3 linked regions of the Homo sapiens genome follow. The protein of the gene in region 1 interacts with the protein of each later gene in a pairwise test. Each region holds a gene or a part of one and is shown on either strand. Other genes may lie near its edges.

Region 1 (8,283 bases):
GAAATTTGATATATGAAATATTTATAAGAGTATTAAAAAATCATATTGGAAGGAGCTTAATTAGAAGCCTCCTAAGTAATGAGGGAACCCTCTTTACAACAGTCTTTAATGCTTGACCATTTTCAGTGATAAAAGACTAGGAAGAGTTAATAAATTTTTCAGAGGATCATCGTACACAGACATGGAGGATACAGCATGTTACTGGTTTTTACACAGCTGCCAATACTGCTTTATAATAAGAATATACATATATTTTTCTCTTTTTTAAAAAAAATATTGATTTTTCCAGTGCTCTACATATTCAGAGAAACTTCTCTAGAAACAAACTATAGAAATGATCCCTGAAAGTACAGTCCTAAGAATATATTTTTAGTCAGTAACATTTTATTTTGAAAACTTTTAGATACAGCAAAATTTAAAGAATTTTATACCAAGCTGCAAAGGAGGAAGTCAAACTGTTGCTGTTTGCTGATGATACAAACTTATACCTAGAAAACCCTCAAGATTCATTTGAAAAGCTCCTAGATCTGATAAATGAATTCAGTGAAGTTTCAGGATACAAAATTAATGTACACAAATCAGTAGCACTGCTATACACCAATGATGACCAAGCCGAGAATCAAATCAAGAACGCAATCCCTTTTACAACAGCTGCCAAAGAAAAATTAAAATACTTAGGAATATACCTAACCAAGGAGGTGAAAGATCTCTACAAGGAAGACTACAAAACACTGTTCAAACAAATCATCGATGACACAAACAAATGGAAACACATCCCATGCTCATGGATGGGTAGAATCAATATGGTGACAATGACCTTACTGCCAAATGCAATCTACAGATTTAATGCAATTCACATCAAAATACCATCATCATTCTATAGAACTAGAAAACACAATTCTAAAATTCATATGGAACCAAAAAAGAGCCCACATAGTCAAAGCAAGACTAAGCAAAAATAACAAATCTGGAGGAACCACATTACCTGACTTCAAACTACACTACAAGGCTATAGTCACCAAAACAGCATGGTACTGGTATAAAAACAGGCATGTAGACCGATGGAACAGAATAGAGAACCCCAAAATAAAGCCAAATACTTACAGCCAACTGGTCTTTGACAAAGCAAACAAAAACATAAAGTGGAGAAAGGACACCCTATTCAACAAACAGTGCTGGGATAATTGGCAAGCCACATGTAGAAGAATGAAACTGGATCTTTATCTTTCATCTTACACAAAAATCAACACAAGGTGGATCAAAGACTTAAATCTTAAGGCCTGAAACCATAAAAATTCTGGAAGATAACATCAGAAAAACTCTTCTAGACATTAGCTTAGGCAAAGAATTCATGACCAAAAAACCAAAAGCGAATGCAACAAAAATAAATGGGACCTAATTAAACTAAAAAGCTTCTACATAGCAAAAGAAATAATCAGCAGAGTAAAGAGACAACCCAAAGTGGTAGAAAATTTTTGCAAAGTATGCATCCAACAAAGGACTAATATCCAGAATCTACAAGGAATACAAACAAACCAGCAAAAACAAACGAACAAACAAAAACCACCAATCCTGTCAAAAAATGGGTTAAAAAAAACATAGACAATTCTCAAATGATATAAAAACAGCCAACAAACACATGAAAAAATGTTTAACATCCCTAATTATCAGGGAAATGCAAATTAAAACCACAATTAGATACTACCTTACTCCTGTAAGAATGGCTATAATTTAAAAATTAAAAATAATAAATATTGGCATGACTGTGGTGAAAAGGGAACACTTTTACACTGCTGGTGGAAATGTAAACTAGTACAACCACTATGAAAAACAGTATGGAGATTCCTTTAAGAACTAAAAGTAGGCTGGGCACGATGGCTCACACTTGTAATCCCAGCACTTTGGGAAGCTGAGGTGGGCGGATCACCTGAGGTCGGGAGTTCGAGACCAGCCTGACCAACATGGAGAAAACCCACCTCTCCTAAGAATACAAAATTAGCTGGGCGTGGTGGTGCATGCCTGTAATCCCAGCTACTTGGGAGGCTGAGGCAGGAGAATGGCTTGAACCCAGGAGGCAGAGGTTGCAGTGAGCCGAGATTGCGCCACTGCACTCCAACCTGGGCAACAAGAGCTAAACTCCACTCAAAAAAAAAAAAGAACTAAAAGTAGAACTACCATTTGATCCAGCAATCCCACTACTGGGTATCTACCCAAAAGAAAAGAAGTCATTATGTGAAAAAGACACATGTACACACACTTACAGCAGCACAATTCACAATTGCAAAAATATAGAACCAACCTAAACGCCCATCAAACAACGAGCAGATAAAGAAAACGTGGTATATTTACACCATGAAAACTGAATGAAATACTGGCTTTTGCAGCAACTTGGATGGAGTTGTAAGCCATTATTCTAAGTGAAGTAACTCAGGAATGGAAAACCAAATATCGTATGTTCTCACTTATAAGTGGGAGCTAAGCTACAAGGACGCAAAAGCATATGAAGGATATAACGGACTTTGGGGACTTGGAGGGAAGGGTGCAAGTGGGGTGAGGGATAAAAGACTACACATTGGGTACAGCGTACACTGCTCAGGTGACGGGTGCACCAAAATGTCAGAAATCACCACTAAAGAACTTATCCATATAGCCAAAAACCACCTGCACCCCCAAAACTATCAACATTCAAAAAAAAAAAAAATCAAAGAACAAGCAAAAAAAAAAAAAATTATAGTTGAATACCTGAATAGCCATACCTAAAGCCCACCATTAACATTCTACTGTAGCCCGGGTGTGGTGGCTAACGCTTGTAATCCCAGCACTTTGGGAGGCCAAGGTGGGCAGATCACAAGGTAAGGAGACCAAGACCATCCTGGCTAACACGGTGAAACCCCGTCTCTACTAAAAATACAAAAAAATTAGCCAGGCATGGTGGCAGGCACCTGTAGTCCCAGCTGCTTGGGAGGCTGAGGCAGGAGAATGGCGTGAACCCAGGGGATGAAGCTTGCAGTGAGCTGAGATCGTGCCACTGCACTCCAGCCTGGGCAACACAGCAAGACTCTGTCTCAAAAAAAAAAAAAAAAGTCTACTGTTATTGTTTTATCACATACCTATCCATCCATCAATCCATCTTGATTTTTACTCTACTTTTAAAATGCCTTTTAAAGTAGTATCTAAATGCAGTTTCTGAAGCAAGGGGTCAGAAACTCCCGCACCTATGAGAAAGGAAAATGATATACAATCATGCGTGGCATGTGTCCCTCAATGATAGACCACAAATACCACAACCGTCCCATATTATAATACCATATTATTTTTGAGACAAGAGTCTCATTCTGTCGCTCAGGCTGGAGGGCAGTGGTGCAATCTGGGCTCACTGCTGGAGGAATCACATTACCTGACTTCAAACTATACTACAAGGCTATAGTTACCAAAACAGCATGGTACTGGTGTAACCTTCCAGGTTCAAGCAATTCTCCTGTCTCAGCCTCCCAAGTAGCTGTGACTACAGGTGCATGCCACCACACTTGGCTAATTTTTGTATTTTTAGTAGAGACAGGGTTTCACTATATTGGTCAGGCTGGTCTCGAGCTCCTGACCTTAGGTGAGCCACCCGCCTCCGCCTCCCAAAGTACTGGGATTACAGGCATGAGCCACCGTGCGCAACCCTGTAATACCATATTTTTACTGCACCTTTTCTAGGTTTAGATATGCTTAGATATACATATACTTTCCACTGCATTACAAAAGCCTACAGCATTCAGTACAGTAACATGCTGTACAGATACGTGGCCTAGGAGCAACAGGCTATACCATATAACCTAGATGTAGAGTAGGCCATACCATCAAGTTTTGTCTAAGTACACTTTATGATGTTCATACAATGACACAATCGCCTAACGACGCATTTCTCAGAACATATCCCCGTTGCAATCTCTGAGGTTGTTACAGCATCAGTCATGTAGTTCCGTATTCATGGTGACTGAAAATTTATTCAATTTTTATGACTTGTTACATTTAGTTGTGAGGTGGAGCAAAGCAGCTAAGTGCTAACTCTAAACAGCCTTGAATTTGAAACCTGGGTCGGCCACTTATTGTGATACTCTAGGCAAGTCATTTAATGCTTTTAGATACCAGTTTCCTTACTGCAAAATAAGATACTAGTAGCAATGTCAAAGTGTTAATGTGAGATTTAAATAAGATAATGTATAAAATGTTTAGCACAGCTGGCATACAGAAAGGGCATAACAAATGTTAGCATTATTATCAACACTGTATTAGTTCATTCAGCCTACACAACAGGTTCTAGCTGCTACATGGCTACACATACCCATGCAACTGTTTATAGTATTCTTCTTCATCACCTTATATGTTCTAAGAACCTTGGGTAGTGTATGTATTTTACTGAGATTAAAGACAGAATGAGGGTGAATGGGTCCAAGTGCAAGCATTCTCCATCTTCCCACTCCACTCCCTAATGGAACTAGATGTTCACTCTGTTATTGAAAGCAGTGATTGTGGAGTCCTAGTAAGGGAAAAGGAGTCAGGCGGGTGGGAAAAGGGTACAGCAAAAAGAAAAAGCAGATAAGGTATAAGTCTGCCTTTCTTCATGGTCCAAGACACACAGCCCTCTTGCACAAATAACTCACAAGCTTTCTGCACTCAACTTATCACCAGACTCTCAGCTGACAGAAAAATGCAAGTTAGCTCACTGCAACCTTGGCCTTATCAGTACTGCACATAGCCCTCTCTGCAGCACACAGCAGAAGCATCATCCTGTAACATGCCCAGCAAGCCATTGTCTCCTGGCAGTCAGCTTCTCTCTTGCTGATCTGCCCGTTGCACCCTTGCAACCAACCTACTTTCATACTTTCTCTAATAAATCTGCCCTTCTTTACCTACAATTGCCTTGGTAATTCCTTTACCACCTGCAACGCCAGCCTCAGCTAGTGTGACCTATGACAGTGAGGATGAACACAGGAAAACACACTACAGGCACAGTTTTGCTTTTCAGCACTTGGTTGACAGGAGGCTGATAAACTGCCTAATTGTGCTCTGCTTACTTTAGATGAACACTGCTCCCTCTTAAAACTTCATTTGAGATCACATAATTATGAATTTATATCAAATTTGGTCCAACCCAAACAAAATGTGTTATCTCCACTGATCACATATCCAAATGCCTTTTTATCTGTACATAGCATATTTATGCCAGTTTTGTTGTAGATGGAGTCACCTGGGCGCAGTGGCTCACGTCTGTAATTCCAGCACTTTAGGAGGCCAGGATTACACTTCAGGAGGCCGAGGCAGGTGAATCACTTGAGGTCAGGAGCTCGAGACCAGCCTGGACAACATGGTGAAACCCCATCTCTACTAATACAAAAATTAGCTGGGCGTGGTGGTACATGCCTGTAATCCCAGCTACTAGGGAGGCTGAGGCAGGAGAATCGCTTGAACCCAGGGGGCAGAGGTGGATTGCAGTGAGCTGAGATCGAGCCACTGCATTCCAGCCTGGGCAACAGAGGGCGACTGCATCTCAAAAAAAAAAAAAAAAAGTTAAAAAAGTAGATGGAGTCATAAAACCTCTACCAACTACCTGCCTCTTTAAAGACATGATTTAAGTAAAAGCTACAGTTCTATTTTTATGGAATTTTTATTTAAAAATATGGTATCTAGGCCTACGGCTACAGGCTTACATGTGTAATCTTAGCACTTTGGGAGGCCAAGGCAGCAGGATCACTTGAGCTCAGGAGTTTGAGAGATCAGCCTGGACAACATAATGAGAATCTATCACTATTTTAAATCACTATTTAAGAAAAAGAGCTGGGCGCAGTGGTGTGTGCCTGTAGTCCCAGCTACTCAAGAGGCTGAGGCAGGAAGATCCCTTGAGCCCAGAAGTTCTGGACTGTAGTATCCTATGCCGATTGGGTGTCTGCACTAAATTAGGCATCAACATGGTGACCTCCAGGGAGTGAGGGACCACCAGGTTGCCTAATGAGAGAAGTGGCCCAGGTCAGAAACAGAGCAGGTCAAAACTCCCGTGCTTATCAGTAGTAGGATCACATCTGTGAATAGCCACTGCACTCCAGCCTGAGCAACACAGTAAATCCCCCGTCTTTAAAAAAAAAAAAAAGTAAGCATGGAATCCACTTCTCTGCTAACTTCTAAAAACTAGTCTTAGTTCTCTTTGCCAGAGGAAGCAGAATCTAATTTTAAAATTTAAAAGTACTTCTATGTGGCTTCACATAACATAATTTGTCTATTGCTAATTCTTCTGAGCTTGATGTGAGAATGTAGTAGATACTAAAAGGAGTATGGTAAAGGTAAACAATACTTCATCTTTAAAAACTAATTTTAATGAGGTTTATCCAAATATAGTTTTTTTTTGTTTTGTTTTGCTTTTGAGATGGAGTCCCGCTTTGTCACCCAGGCTGCAGTGCAATGGCGCAATCTTGGCTCACTGCAACCTCCCCGGTTCAAGCAATTCTCCTGCCTCAGCTTCCCAAGTAGCTGAGACTACAGGCATGTGCCACCATGCCCGGCTAATCCAAGTATAGTTTTAAAACATTATTTTGACTTCTACACTATGTACATACTTTACATATTCAAAAATAAAATCCTAAGTAAAAACTGAAACCTATGAACCATATCAAATTGGTAGCATAACCAGAGAAAAGTATTTCAAGTGACTTTTGAACACAGTACTCATTATACATTCTTCATGCAATATAGTCTAAATACGAAAATAAATGCAAAGAAATCTTAAACTACATGAAGCTTATTGGTATTAGCAATACCAGCACTATAATTTTAAAATGATTTTATGTATACAGTGGGAGAAAGCAAATAAGTTTATTATTTTTTTTGGAGACAGGGTCTCACTCTGTCATCCAGGCTGAAGTGCAGTGGGGTATGAACATGGCTCACTGCAGCCTCAACCTCCTGGGCTCAAGTGATCCACCTGCTTCAGCCTCCTGAGCAGCTGGGAACACAGGCACACACCACCACGCCTGGCTAATTTTTTTATTTTTTATAGAGATGGGGTCTCATCATGTTGCCCAGGCTGGCCTTGAACTCCTGGGCTCAAGCAATCCTTCCACCTCGGCCTTTCAACGTCCTGGGATTACAGGCATGAGCCACTGTGCTTGGCCAGTTTATTAACTGTATTAAAAACCAAGATTTTCATTTAAGACAAGAGACAAATATAGAGTCAAGGAAGAAAAAGTCTGCTTGTTAAATAGGAATTGGAATATCACTCTGAACTCATGATTAAACAAGCAAAAACCTTTTTCTTAGTTCTCTCCTCTCAAAGCACCTAGAAGCAATGATACTGCAGCAGCAACGAATATGCCAAACATCCAGAACTTGGTTTCTATATACGATTTCTCATTAAAAAGAACCAAGACTCCCTGGATAAACAGCTCTTTCCAGAGGTGAGCAAAGAAAGTATAAGATAAACCCTGGAGTAACTCGTGTCAGAAAGCACTCCAAGATTAATGGGGAGCAGGGGTGTCAAGACACACAATAGTCAGCTTGAAATGGTTCCTACTGACCAAATCTGGGACAATTTGGTCATTAAAAAGAAAGACGACTGTAACTGGTTATAAAACAAGGAATAAATTAAAACCCATGAGAGTCTGAAGTGGTATCATTCACCCCTGCCCCAAAAAACATCATTGGGGGTGGCTATTTCTCCAGCTCTTTACTATGAATATTGAAAAGTAAAGAGATTAAATTTAACATTTAATTTGCATTTTGGGGAAGAACAATAGTTTACCTGCACTTAATGAAGGAAATCTCTTCCTTACAGAGAACCTCCAATAACTGATTTAAGCAAAAGTCATCATGGGTGCTAAAAACCACTAAGCAAAAGATTGTCAGAAACTGGGTATTTGCTTAGTGTCCAAGTTTTACCCCAAGATTACATATTAATCACAAACTGGCAAACCACACCTTTACAACAGATCAGTAGTCAGCACTTTAATCAAATGGTTACATTTAGCATCATTAATAGTGTGGGAATCTGACATTGTGTGCCTCCTATATTATGCAACAGGAGGTACACAGCATCACCTATTAAATATTCTTGCCAAAGGAAGTTTTACTTTAAGCTAATTAAGCCTTCCTTTACACCTAACTTCCAGTTAATAGGAAATTCAGGGAGAAAGAGGAATAAACGAAATGACATTAGGAGGGCACAAATCCAGAATGTGGGTATATTTTACAAGACAACTGGTTTGGTCAATTACGTGTCAGAAAAAAAGAAGGGAGGGAATATTCATC
Region 2 (7,641 bases), on another chromosome or scaffold:
TTTAACCTAAGTTATTGTTAATTGTTTCTGTCAGCTCCTCCTGGTCATTGAACTATGTCACGGGATATTTCTCTTTGGAAATTTCTTAAAATCAATGATACTTAATGAAACTCTGATGATCCTTTGTTAATATAAAAATCAGTTCTGTCTACTCCTGTGTTTTACAGCCAATGGGCAGGGTAATTCACAAATTACACCAAAAATAAATATTCGGGGAAAGATGCAGAACTTATACAAAGAGAAAGCTTGCACCTGGGCATGATATTCTTTCAAGTTTTACAGATTCTATCATTAGATTTGTTGGCGCTAGCTCCGGGTCCTCAGCTGTCACTTTGATTTTCTCTGTTGTTCCTCCTTAAGTGAATAGCTTTTTAATATACATCAGATCAATATCCATGTTGTTTCCTAGAACTTCTAGGTGCCCAGCCCTTTTCTGTTTATTAATAGTATCTCCTAGGATCCTTGCCACATTTTCACAAGAGTCACTACTGATACAGGTTGACTATCCCTTCTCTGAAATGCTTGGGATCAGAAGTGATTAAGATTTCAGATTTTTTTGGATTTTGGAATATTTGCATTATACTTATCACTTGAGCATTGGAAATCCACAATCCAAAATGCTTCAGTGAGCATTCCTTTGAGCATCATGTCAGCACTCAAAAGGTTTCAGATTTTGAAGCATTTTGGATTTCAGATTTGGGATTAGGAATACTCAACCTGTATTAAACAAAGCTGGTCCCTGAGGCAACTACTCAGATATTTTTTTATTTGAAAAGTTGCTCTTTATCATTAGATGTTGCTACTGCTTTTCCCAAAAATATCAGAGTCCTCATAACTTTTTTCTGTTAAAATCAAATAATATTTATTGGTATTTATGATTTATGATATATAGGCATATATCATAACTTACACACATATAAGTACCTTAAAATTACCTTAAGTTATTTTAGAAGATATGTATTTGTATCTCACATGTATTTTTGTATTTATTCATTCAGGAATATATTGAGTGCTTGCTATGTACAAAACTGAACATTTGTTTAAACACATAATTGCAGGATCAGATGTCAAGCAACCCAATTTCTAAAAGCCTCACAGAACTAAGTGAAGATTTAACAATTAACCCAGTTCCTCTAAATATATCAATATCTCCTATTTGTTGGAGTAATTTGTAAGCTCAAGTACAACTGAGAATGATAGGGACCTAAAGAATCGTGGCTTAATCAAGAGTGGCTTATTTTCTGTCCTCCCTGTGGTCATCCACAGTACTCAGGAATCCTGGTTCACAATGGCTACTGGATGCAGTAGCAAAAAGTTTTTAAAATAGAGCAAGGGGCCAGGCATGATGGCTCATGCCTGAAATCCCAGTGCTTTGGGAGGCCAAGGCAGGAGGATCACCTGAGGCCAGGAATTCAAGACCAGTCTGGGAAACATAGCCAGACCCTGTATATACAAAAAAAAAAAAAAAAAAATTGGCTGAGCATAGTATCACATGCCTTTAGCTCTAGCTACTCAGGCAGCTGCAGCAGGAGGATCACATGAGCCCAGGAGTTTGAGGCTGCAATAAGCTATAATCGTGCCACTGCACGCCAGCCTGGGTAACAGAAGGAGGCCCTGTCTCTAAAGAAATAAAGAAATAAACCAGAGTACAGTAAGTACCAGCCTTAAAGAAAAAAAGATAAATGACTTTAAAAAGAACTTCTGTTCATCAAAAGATACCAATAAGAGAACAAAAAGGTAAGCCACAAACTGGCTGATGATATTTTTTGCAATGCATATATCTAAGAAAGGTGTTAAATCCAGAGTATGCATAAAAAGCAGGCATGTCTCTAAAAGCAATGCCTAAATAGCCCATAAACATCTCATAAGATGCTCAATATCATCACTCATCAGGGAAATGCAAATTAACAACATGATGAAATGCCATTACCCACCAGAATGGCTAAAATTAAAAAGAATTACAATGCCAAATGCTGGTGAGGACGTGGAGCAACTGGAATACTTATAAATTCCTGGTAGAATTATGTATCGACGCAACCAATTTGGAAACTGACAGTATCTACTAAAGCCGCAAACATGCTCATGCTGTGGCCCAGCATTTCCACTCCTGGGAATATACCCAAGAGAAATGAGTGCATGTTGTTCACCAAATGAGGGGAAGTGGCCAAATGAGGCTTCACAGCAGCACCTTGAATTTTGTCTCCGAAGATGGCAGGTATTCTCTAAGTGCACAGACACTGGGAGCACCATGTAAAGTCATGGAGATACAAACGAGCATGAGGTGTTTGGGAGCATGGTAGTTGTAAACTGCTGGCGCACATGAGTTAGGATTCTAGAAAGACACAAGGCTCAAGGGGTAGGCCGGGTCTTGTAGAGCTTGCCAAGGAGTGAGTTTTGCCAAGGAGCTTGTTCAGGTTTGACTTTCAGAGAGATCACTCAAGAGGTATGCGGGGTGAAGCTAGGGAGGCTAAGTAACTCTTGGCAGGAAGCCACAGGGGGTGCTAATTATCACTTTGCTGCCATTTTACCAATTTGGGGGAATAAGTACTTTTACCCTGAATTATACTACCTGCCATTCTATGCAGAGAATGGAATTGGTATGTTGCTATAACTGATGATTTTCCAGAAAGCCTTACACTTCCATAATAGCGACAGGAAGAGAAGGTAGACAGATGACAATCCAGCAAGCATTTGCTCAACCGCCATCCTGTCTAGCTCAGCATCTCTTTGACAACTTTCAAACTTTCTACCAAAAACATCACTGATTTTACAAAACGTGTACGGGCTTTGTCCATTCTTAGGGTGAACTTTGCCCTTTCCATCCAAATCCTCTTCCTGTACTGACCATTCCAGAAAGACAACACAGGCTTTGCCCATGGCCAGCATCCTTAGTGAGTGTGTGAAAACCACCCAAAGGAAAGGGAAAGGAAAAGCAAAACATGGTATTTTTCTTTAGAGCAAGACTCTGATTTCTCAATGTGAACCCGTTGCCCAATTTTCTTGAGACAGCCCCAAATTTGTATTAGTCCCTGTGTTAAAATGGCCATCACGGGCTCATTACACAGCAGACATTGTCACACTGCTCATGTTTCTGCCAAGGAAAACACAAGAGGAAATGATCTTACTGGGAAAGAGGAGGTGTGAGGCTGAGGGTAAAGTCCCTGACCATGAACAAATCATGAGACTCTGCCAGGGCTCCTGGGGGAGGGGCAGAATCACCTTTACTAGCGATTTAAGAAGAAAAGATTCTTACCAAAAAGATAGCTGCACTCGTATGTTTATCACAGCACTGTCCACAGTAGCAAAGATATGGAATCAACCTAAGTGTCCATCAAGTGGATGACTGGAAAAAAAAATGCGGTATATATAGCATGGAATACTCCTTAACTATAAAAAGGAATGAAATCACATCTTTTACAGCCACATGGTTAGAATTGGAGGTCATTATCTTAAATGAAATAACTCAGAAACAGAAAGTCAAATACCACATGTTCTCATTTAGAAGTGAGACCTAAACAATGGGTACACATGGACATGCAGAGTGGAATAAGAGACACTGGAGCCTCCACAGGGTGGGAGGGTGGGAGGGTGACCAGGGGTGAGGGCTGAAAATTACCTATTGGGTGCGCTGTTCACTATTTGGGTGATGGGTACACTAAAAGCCCAGACCTCATCACTATGCAGTATCTGCACATAAGAAATCTGCACTTGTACTCCCTAAATCTATAAAAAGTAAAAAATTAAAGAGAAAGAATTGGCCGGGCATGGTGGCTCACGCCTGTAATCCCAGCACTTTGGGAGGCCGAGGCGGGTGGACCACGAGGTCAGAAGATTGAGACCATCCTGGCTAACATGGTGAAACCTTGTCTCTACTAAAAATACAAAAAATTAGCCGGGTGTGGTGGCACGTGCCTGTGGTCCCAGCTACTCAGGAGGCTGAGGCAGAAGAATCACTTGAACCCAGCAGGCAGAGGATGCAGTGGGCTGAGATCGCGCCACTGCACTCCATCCTGGCGACAGAGCGAGACTCTGTCTCAAAAAAAGAGAGAAAGGATTCTATCCATGTGCCAGGGTATGAGCCTCTTGACACCCAGATCCTTGAAAAAGATGCTTTGCCTCAGTGGTCCGCCGCAGACCCCTTCGCTTCCCCAGTTGCAAACTGTACTCAAAGGTGCAGGGAAAACTTTTGGATCAGTTACTGAATTCCAATTTTTTGGTGACTTTAGGGACATAGCCAAATTTCCCGGGCTGGTTGCCTTAAGCACATTAATTTATGTGATGCTATTCTGTTCCTTAGATAAAGTTCCTTAAATAGAAAGAAGGGAGCTTCTGGATTCCAGGGAGGCAGCTAGCCTGCACTGCTTCAAAGAGAAAGAAAGGAACGAGTACATCGCTGCTGTCACTTGGAGCAGCTCAGGAGGGCAGCCTCCAAGAGCTGAAAGCCAGGGGGAGGCTTCCATGCGAGGAGGATTCAGGTTCCTGTTTCACTCTAAAAAGGTCCACTGAGGAGGAGTCTCTGGAAACATCTAAAGTAACTCCCTCCCAGCCTCTAGTGTTTCTGGTCAGCAGACAAGCACACAAGGGAGGCCAGAGATGGAACCACCACCAGGGGAACAGCACATAAAGGAGCTCCAACCTTCACAGGTGCGGGTTGTCTTTAAATCCAACAAGACCCCACTTTTAGAAACTGACCCCTCTGCCACTGGACAGAGCCAGAGAATACCACCAGATCCGCCCATATGCAAGCCCTGCAGTCACATCAGCTCCAGGCCTCAGGAGCGATGTGGAGGCTCCTCAAGCACCTGCCTCCTGCTGCCACCCAGGATTTCCTGCCATTATTCACAATGCCATATCAGCCTCAAATTCCGCCCACCCAGCAGGCAGCTCCACTGTGCACGTGGGCACCCTCCAGTGAAAAAGACCGGGTACCATCTCTCTTCAAAGCAGCAGAATGTAGGGTTTGTCTGGATTCCTACCTTCGTCATGTGGTAAAAATAAGAGAATACAGGTAGATTTCTGTTAAACAAGCACAGTCGTGAAAATCTCTGCAAAACTACACAGTGTTCATCCTCCATCAGTTGTGCTTGATTTTAAGCCAAATTGAACAGTGCCCTATTCCCTGACACTGGGAACATTTAGACGTCCCCTGGCATTCCTTGCATGGGAACCTTGACCTTCTGCTCCTCATAAAGCAACCACAAAGGCTTCCTTTTTCAGGCAGATTCGGACTGCAAAATTTTTCACCAAGTGCATGTTCTCAAATAAGACTTTGAAGACAGAAGTTACAAGGTGATGCATACTTATCAAGAAAGAAAATGACATTAGGGCACCCAAAGGAATTGGCCTTTGGAAAAAATAAGATAGACATTTGAATTAATAAACATTGTCCCCCTCCCCCGGAAACAACCTCTGTACCCAAGGACTTCTTTCTCTAATAGCCTCATTTTATTTTCTCTTGACTTATTTTCTCTTTTATTCAGCCAATTCAAATGATTAAGAAAATTGGTTTGTTTCCCCAGCAGCCACCCAGCTGTGACACCTCTTAGGCACATCTGAGCCTTTTGGGGCTGCTCCTTACCCCATCCCAAAGGGGTGACTCTCCATTCCTGCTGGATGCCGAGAGCCCTTGTAGTAAACCCCAGTCAGAACCCTTTTCTTATTGCAGGGATTTGTAAATCAGGTACTATTAATATATACTAAGTCAAGCCAGACCGACTGCCCCCAAACCCATTATTTAATTGAAACCTTGGATGCATAGTAAGGTTGGCCTTGGGTTCTGGCCTGTATGCTTGGACACAGACCAGAGAGAGAATCTGAGAGAAGCAGACCCTGGTGCAAATGCGCATTGGAAGAGAGGTCTCCAGTTCTGCACAACAGAAACGGGTTACTGGTGAGCTGCAGTGAGGGCCAGGGAGGGCTGCTGGACCAGGAGGATAGGCTGGGATATGACAGGGCAAAGCTGCTCATCCAACCCCTGCAGGATCCGCAGGATCAGTCAGCAGGCGGCAGCTCCCTTTCCTGTACACAGTTCCTGAAAGGTAACGTATATAGAGGAATCAGTAGTTACTAGCAACAAGTAGATAAATGCTAACCCCGATAGCCCCTCACTCATGGAGGATTTACTGTCTGGAACCATGGACCACCCCACCCTAAGACTGTGTCCTGGCTATCATGCATATACTAGAATCACACCCCATGTGGATCTGGTCTGAAATTGTCTCTGCATAGCCCATCCTGATCACTTCTGTCCTCTCATCAGTAACATTTACAAACAGTGTCTATCAGGTGAGCACACTGTGATTCTTTGGTTGGAAGGAAAGAAACCCTGCAAGCATTCTTTTTGCATTTTGTGATAATTCTTATCTCCGTTATCCTGCTCAGCCAGGCCCATGTTCTTTTTGCCAGTTTGTTGAGCGCAATGGGCATGTGTGCTTTAAAAAGTATTCTGTATTGTGATAAGGAGCTGAATCTCCTCCTAGCCTCGGAGATGGCTCCTCAGACTGAAAACTCTTTCTGGTGCTCCTCAAAGCTCTGCTACCTCTGTCTTTGCTCTAGAGATTGCAGAACTGGTAATGCTGGTAATGCTTTATTGCCATGACATTGCCAGGAGTTTCCAATGATTGGTAACTGTGTTTCCTGATGCATTTAACAATTCCCATCCTGCACTAATGTGATCTGCCTCTCCCCCCACAGGCACAAAGGGTGCATAAGAAGTTTCCTAAACCTGGCAGAGTACATCATGCCTCCGAGAAGAAACGTCATTCCACTCCTTTGCCGAGCACTGCTGTACCAAGCCATACACCTGGCAGCAGCCAGCAGTCCCCGCTCAACAGTCCTCACCCGGGGCCCATCCGGACAGGCCTGCCTCCTGGGCACCAGCAGGAATTTGCCGGACGAGCCAACAGCACCCCCAACCCTCCCTGGTCTTTCCAGAGAAGCAAGTCCTTGTTTTGTTTGCCCACGGGAGGCCCCTCCCTGGCCTCCTCAGCTGAACCACAGTGGTTTTCAAACACAGGTGCCCCAGGGCACAGGGCATCAGAGTGGAGGCATGGCCACCTCCTCTCCATCGATGACCTAGAGGGGGCCCAGGAGACAGACGTGGACACAGGCCTGCGGCTGTCCTCATCGGACCTGTCTGTGGTCTCTGCATATTCTGCACCCAGTAGGTTCTGCAGCACAGTGGAGACACCCCTCCCCTCCGAAAGATGCAGCAGCCACTGGGCAGCTCACAAGGATTCCAGGGAGGGACCACTGCCCACTGTCAGCAGGGTGACCACAGAGGCCTCCTGGGCTTCCCTCCCTTTCTTCACCAAAAGGTCTTCCAGCTCCTCAGCGACAGCTCGTGCTGCTCCCCCAGCTCCCAGCACCTCCACCCTCACAGACTCCTCCCCACAGCTCCCATGCGATACCCCCAAAGTCAAGCAGACTGATGGAGACATGCCACCACCCCCAGGGTCGGCTGGCCCCGGGGATAACGACATGGAGGAATTCTACATCTGAATGCCCTCTGCTCTTGTTCTCGAAACACACAAACTCAGAGACACAGACTCAGGCCCCACTGCCCCTCTGGCCACTGAGCACACCACATTCTTCATGATCCATTTCCCAGGAGCCCGTAGCACATTTGCCTACCACCCACTC
Region 3 (7,641 bases), on another chromosome or scaffold:
GACTGCACACTAGATAGTAATTCTTCAGGTCTTTTACATAACCACCAAGAAACAGATATTGGTTTCTGCAATATAGTATAAAAGTCCACAATCAATCCAGTCTTAGCCAGTATCTTCAATTTACTTCTGTTGCTGTACAAATAATTGGCCATTACTAGGGCTTACAAGTTAATAACAGGACAAAAAATATACATTGCACTGACACAAAAAGTCAGCTGTGTTAAGAGTCATGCAACAAGTAACCAAACTTGCTGAAATTAAAAATACTTTCTAAAAACAGTTTTAACGGCATAAATATTTTATACACAGTTCATTTACCAAAACAAAATGTATTTAAATGATACAAAGCAAAAATAAGTTTCTACCAACTTTATACATAAGAAAGTGCAAAATAACTTATCTAGAGTGTTTTGCTATTATCCAGACGGATGGCTGCTATGGGCAGCTATTCTCTTCTTCAAAAGCATGACATTAGAGTTGCACACTACATAGAAATGTTAGAATACATGGATGAACAAATGAACAGGTGGATGGATGAATGAACAAACTACAAAGATCAGGCAGGAGCCCTATGAGGTACTCTCAGAAAAAGAATGCAGACCATACTAAGGTAGATGTACATGTTGACAATAGATGTTGGTAAATAAATTTACATGGAACACAGAAAGATATCCAGAGAAATAATTAGTTTATGTATGTGAGTGTACTTGTATGTGTGAGTGATTCTGTTGATTTCTGCATTAGAGGCAAAAAGAAAAGAAACCCGATTGAACAAAACAGTTGCCCACAGCACCAGCTGCCAGAGGAAATACTACCATGAGGGTTTTGGTTTCCACCTTCTAGTTATGGAAGTTCTGTTAGAAAGTTAGTAATGGAAGTTGTGTCGGAAAGTTTAAAAGTGTTCATCCCATATAGTTTCCTATTACAAAGAGGAATAACCTTTAAGTAACTACACACACACATTCATATATTCAAGTCTTTAAAGAACACCTCTGCCACTGGGTATGGGGTAAACATGATTCATGGACAAAAGGAGGACGCTTCTTTTAAAAAGTGTAGAATAACACTGCTACAAATCATCTAGAGGGCCAGACAGGGGCAAGGCCCACAGTTACATAATAGCACAATTTCTGCAACTGTTGAACATCAGCATTATTTATTAGAATTGAAGATGGTGATGGGGGAGGGAGAGTGTGGGGGGAGTAAGACACAGAAAGGAAAACAGAACACAACTTTTCTTTAAATTAAAGTATTAATGCCGATAATCCTTTTATTAACAAGTATATTTGAACTTTTAGAAATGGAAGTGTTTTAATCAATTTTGATATGTAATCATAAATAGACTGTAGGCTCAAACCCAGGTAAATAAAGATTTAAATTTAGTAAGCGTAAGGCACTAAAGCAGCCTTTCTATTTTCTCTTGGAGACCTAGTTATCATATCAGGAAGAACAAATTTGTTCTTAAGCTGGTTTCAGCCCATCAGGTACAAGATCACCATTGTACCAAATGCCTATTTTTGAATGCATGTGCATATATGTGCATTTTAGTGCATAAGTGTGCCTCTCACCAGGGCCTAAAGATGGAAAATTGGAAAAGCCAAAGCCGCTGTCCTTTGCATGATGCCTCTGTGAGGGTGTGAAGGCCTTTCCTTTCGCACCTGTGAAGGTGTGAAGGCCTATCTTGGGCCATTAATGATTCTATATTTTTCAAATCACAGGGCTTTTAGAATTGTTCATAATGTTATCACTAAGTTTCTGAAAATGTTAAAATCTAGATTAATTGTTTCATTTTTAATATATATTATATATATATATATATGTACATAACACACATTTAAAAAAATCCCACCACCAAGCCTTTTCTCTGTAAACTAATCTCTTAGCCCCTTCCAGCTTTAATCCCCCTGGATTTGTGTGTTCTGTATCCAACTAGTAGAACAAATTAAATAACTAAATATTAAAATACTGTAATTATATTCATAGCAAAAACAAAAAAATAGACATTGATACAGTATAAATCTCACTGTTTTCAGGTAGATGACATTAAATGGTAAAGGTTAATTTTAAGCAGTTCTGACATGATTCAGTTTTACAACAAAGTTTATATGTTAATTCTGTACACTTCTTTCTTTCCTTTTTTTACCCCTTGTTTGAAAATAAGCTATAGTAGAACATTAGTGTCACCAAAGACACATACTTATTATGTTCTATGCAAGATAAGCTAATTTTGGGTTACATGCAAATATATTTCCATTAGTTGAGACAGGGCTGTTTCCTGCACTACACTGGTCATCTGACCACCTTTCTGCAATGCTAAGAAGGTATTCTTTGACCAAACAGCAGTCCACATACAAGTTTAAAAGGGGCCCTGTTTATGTAGGAACAACACTGAGGTGGTGCGTAGCCAGGTACAAGACGCCCAAATATTTCCAGTTTATCTTACGGCTGGACTCCTATTCTCCCACACTGTTTCCTAAAGAAGGTCCACATTATTTTGGTTACTAGCCTAGTTTAAGTGGAGATACTGTGGGCAACTTGAAAGAAATGACATCAGGCACACAGGCTGAGCTTGAAAGGAAAAAAAGACCACAGATAATGTCTTTGGGGATTTAAAAAAACATATTTATAATTAATTGGTAAGTGAGGGATGTCAGACAAACCATAAGTAGTTCATTGAGTTAGTGGTTTAGTTTGAAGTTTCATGTTACAGGCAGTTAAGTCCTTATTTAGAAAAAAGGCCTTTTATATCTATTTACAATATACATAGTTACTTGCAAAGAAGTCAGATTTACAACCATTTTCTAAAAGCCTTTTTTGTTGTTGGTTTTTCCAAATAAGGATGAGTAGCTCTATAAAAATGAGATGCAAGAAAAGAGAGTTAATAAGTGAGGATTTTTCTCTTGGAGACAGCTACTGTCATCAGGGAGAACTGGAGGTCGAAAGTGTTGCTCCTAGGAACCACCTCATATTCTTCTTGTGCTGTTCACCTGAATCGCGTCTGCCCCATTCCTGTACTCTACACCCGTTTTATTCAATGATCCCTTTGAATTTTAACACTTCAAACACGTGGTATGAAGAGATGTGTAAACGGAGACTGTTTTCAATGCCTTCCAAGCTGGGACAGGAGAATCGGGAAGGGGTCTACAGACCATGGTCTCCACTCAGCTTGTTGAATCTTCAACAATTTCGAGGCCCATCTTCTGAACCTCTCTCATGCTGTAAGTTATAATAACAGTTCTGACAAACACGCACCGGGGATGAGATTTTCAAGCGTTTGATTTCAGATTGAAAGCGACTGCACCTAAAGGAAAGGAAAAGTCAATTAATTATAGGTCTTCTCCATGCTTGATCATGGGCACCGGAAACATTAATAATCGAATGGAAAGCTTGCAGTAAAATGCCAAAGGCCATACTGGTTTGTGTTGTGTGGCTGAACAAGGACTAAAAGGAAAGCTGTATTATTTGTTTCAGTCTATGAAGAAAAGCAGTATTAAACCAGGGAAGCTATTTCTTTGACTGACAAGAATTAAAAAAACGAAAACAAAAAAACAGAGTTAAGATTTTCCTATACAATGAGGCCAAGGTGTCTGAACAGTGATGTAAGGCCATTCTACCTGTGTAGACTAATTCTCATGGCCTATAAGCTTGGGAGGTATGTCAATGTCTTTACCTGGAGCTTGACATATTTCTCTTGGAAATCAGAAAAACTCACTAGCGGAAATTAGAAGACTCACTAATGAGTATCTATTTTCAAGAGAATTACTAATGACTCATTAGTGAGTCTTCTAATTTCCAAAAGAAATATGAGTTTGATCACTATCAAGTTCCATTGTGCTTTTAAACATTTTGATTGATCCACTCTTTAATCATTTCTTAAACAGTTAGACTGGCTTTCCTTTTCCAGTCCCAACACCCTCATTTCCTATTTATCTTGCTAGAACTGTTTGAAGGAGACTATTCTTAAGAGATGTTCAAATTCTTTAAGAAGTATTCAGAGTTCCTATTCCTGGAATAAAGCCAGGTGTGACTCAGGATGTGGTATTAAATCACTTTAGGCTTGGATTTTCAGAAGATTGAAATGGAAATGAAAAAAAAAATTTTTTTTTGGTAGGGATGGGGTCTCATTACATTGTCCAGGCTGTCCTCAAACTCCTGGCCTCAAGTGATCTTCCTGCCTTGACCTCCCAAAGTGCTGAGACTACAGACGTGAGCCACTGTGCCTGGCCTTGAAATGGAGATTTATGTTTAGTCCATTAATCTACCAGTAAAAATGTCCAGAGAGTAAATTAAGTACTATAACCTTATGGGTTTAAAGGACTGTCACTGGACCTCTCAGATCCCTCAAGAGTGTCAACAGCTCTCAGCCATAGAGACCACAGGCTGTGTGTTCTGGAAAGCACTTCCTTCTGTGCCTGCTTCATCAGAACTTATCACTGTTTGGTCAGTTTCCAATAAAGCTTCCATCCAACATTTAATAGCAATGGATAATTTAAAGAATTACCTATATTTAAACAATATTTTGAAAATTAAACACTACAAAGAACAGATGTGTGCCAGCATACATACGGGAGTGCTAGTACAAATCACTAGATTAATATGATGGGTGTGGAGGCTGAAAACTGTAATCCCAGCACTTTAGGAGGCTGAGGCGGGGGTACTGCTTGAGCCCGCGGCTGTGAGACCAGCCTGGGGAACATAGTGAGACTCTATCTCTACAAAAAATACAAAAATTAGCCAGGTGTGGTGGCTCTTGCCTATAGTCTCAGCTACTTGGAAGGCTGAGGTGGGAGGACTGCTTGAGCCTGGGAGATCAAAGCTGCACTGAGCTGTGATCGTGCCACTGTACTCCAGCCTGGGTGATAGAGGAAGACCCCATCTCAAGAAATATATATATATAGGCTGGGTGCGGAGGCTCATGACTGTAATCCCAGCACTTTGGGAGGCCAAGGTGGGCAGACCACAAGGTCAGGAGTTCGAGACGAGCCTGGCCAATATGGTGAAACCCCGTCTCTACTAAGAATACAAAAATTAGCCAGGCGTGGTGGTGCACGCCTGTAGTCCCAGCTACTCAGGAAGCTGAGGTAGAAGAATCGCTTGAACCCAGGAGGCGGAGGCTGCAGTGAGCCGAGATCACGCCACTGCACTCCAGCCTGGGTGACAGAGTGAGACTCCGTCTCAAAAAAAATAAAAATAAAAATAAAAGATATATATATATATGTCTAGCGGCTCTGTGCTTTGAAAGGCCTGCTCTATAAAACCCATTATGGGTTTTTAAATTTATTATCTATTTTTTTGAGATGGAGTCTTGCTCTGTTGCTCAGGCTGGATGGAGTGCAGTGGCGTGATCTCGGGTCACTGCAACCTCTGTCTGCTGGGTTCAAGTGATTCTCTCGCCTCAACCTCCTGAGTAGCTCACCACCACACCTGGCTAATTTTTGTATTTTTAGTACAGACAGGGTTTTGCCATGTTGGCCAGGCTGGTCTCGAACTCCTGACCTCAGGTGATCAGCCCACCTCAGCCTCCCAAAGTGCTGGCATTACAGGCATGAGCCACTGTGCCCGGTCCCATTATAGGTTTTATAGAGCAGGCCTTTCAAAGCACAGAGCCACTAGACAGAATCCTCTGCCAGCCTCACAGAAATTCCCACAGGAAATGGCTGGCTGCAACATTTTGGGTCCCTCATCTTGAACCAGACTGCCCAGCAGAAAAGGTTTAAGGAATCAAATGATGGAACACCTGTTTTGCCAGACTCTGAACTTGGTGCTTTACAACACTCATATATGTGATCTCATTTAATTCTCTCAATAGCTCTAAGAGGACTGGTCTTCTTACCCACATTTACAGATAAAGAAACCAAAGCTCAGAGAGGCTCGGTAACTTGCTGGCATTATGGCAACAGAAAGTAGCACAGTGAGCATTTGGTCAGTGTAAACCCAAAGACTATGCCCATACCAGTAAGCCAATGCTGCCTATAAAACCTCAGGAATGGACTCATAATTACACAAGTTGAGAATAATATGCTTTCTATGAAAGCATCTCTGGAGTAAGGCAATATAAGCCTTAAAGTGTACTGTCCATGGAATCCTTTCTGTTGTCTGGCAGAAAAAGTAACGACTGTGGATGTGTATCTGGGACCCAGGTGTAGGACAGAGATATCAACCAAATCTATAGCCATGGGACCACTGACCTTTCATATGGGGGAAAAATAGATCCTCGCCTCATGTTATACCCCAAAATAAATTACAAATGAATTAAAGACCTAAATGTGAAAAATAAAACTTTGAAACCTTTAAAAGAAAATAAACAAGATTATCTTTGTGATCCTAGGACAGAGAAAGAATTCTTAAGGCACAAAAAAGCAAAAATCATAGAGTAATACATGTGACTACAACCAGTTTAAAAACTTGTAGATGACAGAAAAAACATATACAAAGTTGAAACACAAGCCACAGACTGGCAGAACGTATCTGCAAGATATATAAAAAACAAAGGTGTACAGCACAGAATATATAAAAGAACTCCTCAAGGAAAAAAAAAGGGCAAAGTACCCAAAAGGAAACCCAAATAGCCAACAAACATGAAAAGATGTTGTCTCACTAGCATTGCAAGTTAAAACAACAAAGCACTATTTTTTAGCTATCAGATTGGCAAAAGTGGAAAAAGTCTGGCAGTACCAAGCATGACTAAGAATTTGGAGAACCTTCATGGCCTGTTGGAGGTAGTGGAGGTAGTATTAACTAGCACTACTGTTTTGAAGAGTAATTTGGCAATATCTAATTAAGATCAAGAATAAGTCTGTGTTCTATCAATTTCATTCCATCTCTAGAGGAATTCTAGCTTGTGTATTAGAAGGGCATTTATAGGGATGTGCATTGTAGCATTATTTATAGTACTGATAAAAATAGAAAAAAAAAAACCCTGAGAGGGCATCAAAAGGGAAATAATGATGATAAATTCATATAATTAAAATAACCGACAGTAGTTAAAATGAATATATTACAATAAGATATCTATATAAATGGATTTCAAAAACAATGTTGAGTAAGAAAGTTACAGAAGGGCAAAAACAGTATAGTACGTAAAGCTGAAAAGTAAAGCTGAGAACACCAAAATAGTATGATGTAATGTTTACAGAGGCAACACATGTTCCTGAAAGCATAAAAACATGGAGAATGGGTGTGATTGGTGAAAGGTGCAAAGAGGATACTTACAATGTATCTATAGTGTTTATAGAATCATTTCACATACAGGTCTCTAAATTAAATACGATGAAATATTAGCATATGTGCATTCTGTGTCATGGATGACAAGGTGTTTGTGACTTGTATGACAGAAAAATTTCCTAATTGTAGTAATAAAGAAGAACAGAAAAAGTGAAGACTGGTTCATACCAACAAGGCATACTGTAGTGGGGACGCCAGGGCAAATCAGAACCTGTGTGCAGGACATAATTAACAACCTTAGAGCTTAATCAATGTAAATTCAAAAAGCAGATATCTTATCTTACTTCTGGCAGAAGAGCTGACCACAGTTCCTGCAATGGTGTCGTCTTTCTGTGAGTGAAAACCTCACCGAGCAGCCTGAGCAGCTGTCACCACCTTCATCCTTCACCCAGTGATCAGCAGCAGAACGGCCTGGCT

The links. Proteins that work in one complex are often made in the same cells at the same time.
Region 2: the proteins of ZBTB44 (region 1) and FAM124A interact in binary tests that used the Homo sapiens proteins (3 or more experiments, as listed by UniProt).
Region 3: the proteins of ZBTB44 (region 1) and WDFY3 interact in binary tests that used the Homo sapiens proteins (3 or more experiments, as listed by UniProt).

The regions. Positions count from the first base shown.
Region 1 is NC_000011.10:130,304,358-130,312,640, forward strand, and holds part of ZBTB44 (zinc finger and BTB domain-containing protein 44), read right to left. Parts: intron 6,118-8,283; exon of another isoform or gene 5,823-6,117; intron 358-5,822; exon of another isoform or gene 280-357; intron 1-279. UniProt on the Homo sapiens protein: May be involved in transcriptional regulation.
Region 2 is NC_000013.11:51,273,757-51,281,397, forward strand, and holds part of FAM124A (protein FAM124A), read left to right. Parts: intron 1-6,693; coding exon 6,694-7,500; 3' UTR 7,501-7,641.
Region 3 is NC_000004.12:84,669,691-84,677,331, forward strand, and holds part of WDFY3 (WD repeat and FYVE domain-containing protein 3), read right to left. Parts: coding exon 7,509-7,641; intron 3,302-7,508; coding exon 3,178-3,301; 3' UTR 1-3,177. UniProt on the Homo sapiens protein: Required for selective macroautophagy (aggrephagy). Acts as an adapter protein by linking specific proteins destined for degradation to the core autophagic machinery members, such as the ATG5-ATG12-ATG16L E3-like ligase, SQSTM1 and LC3.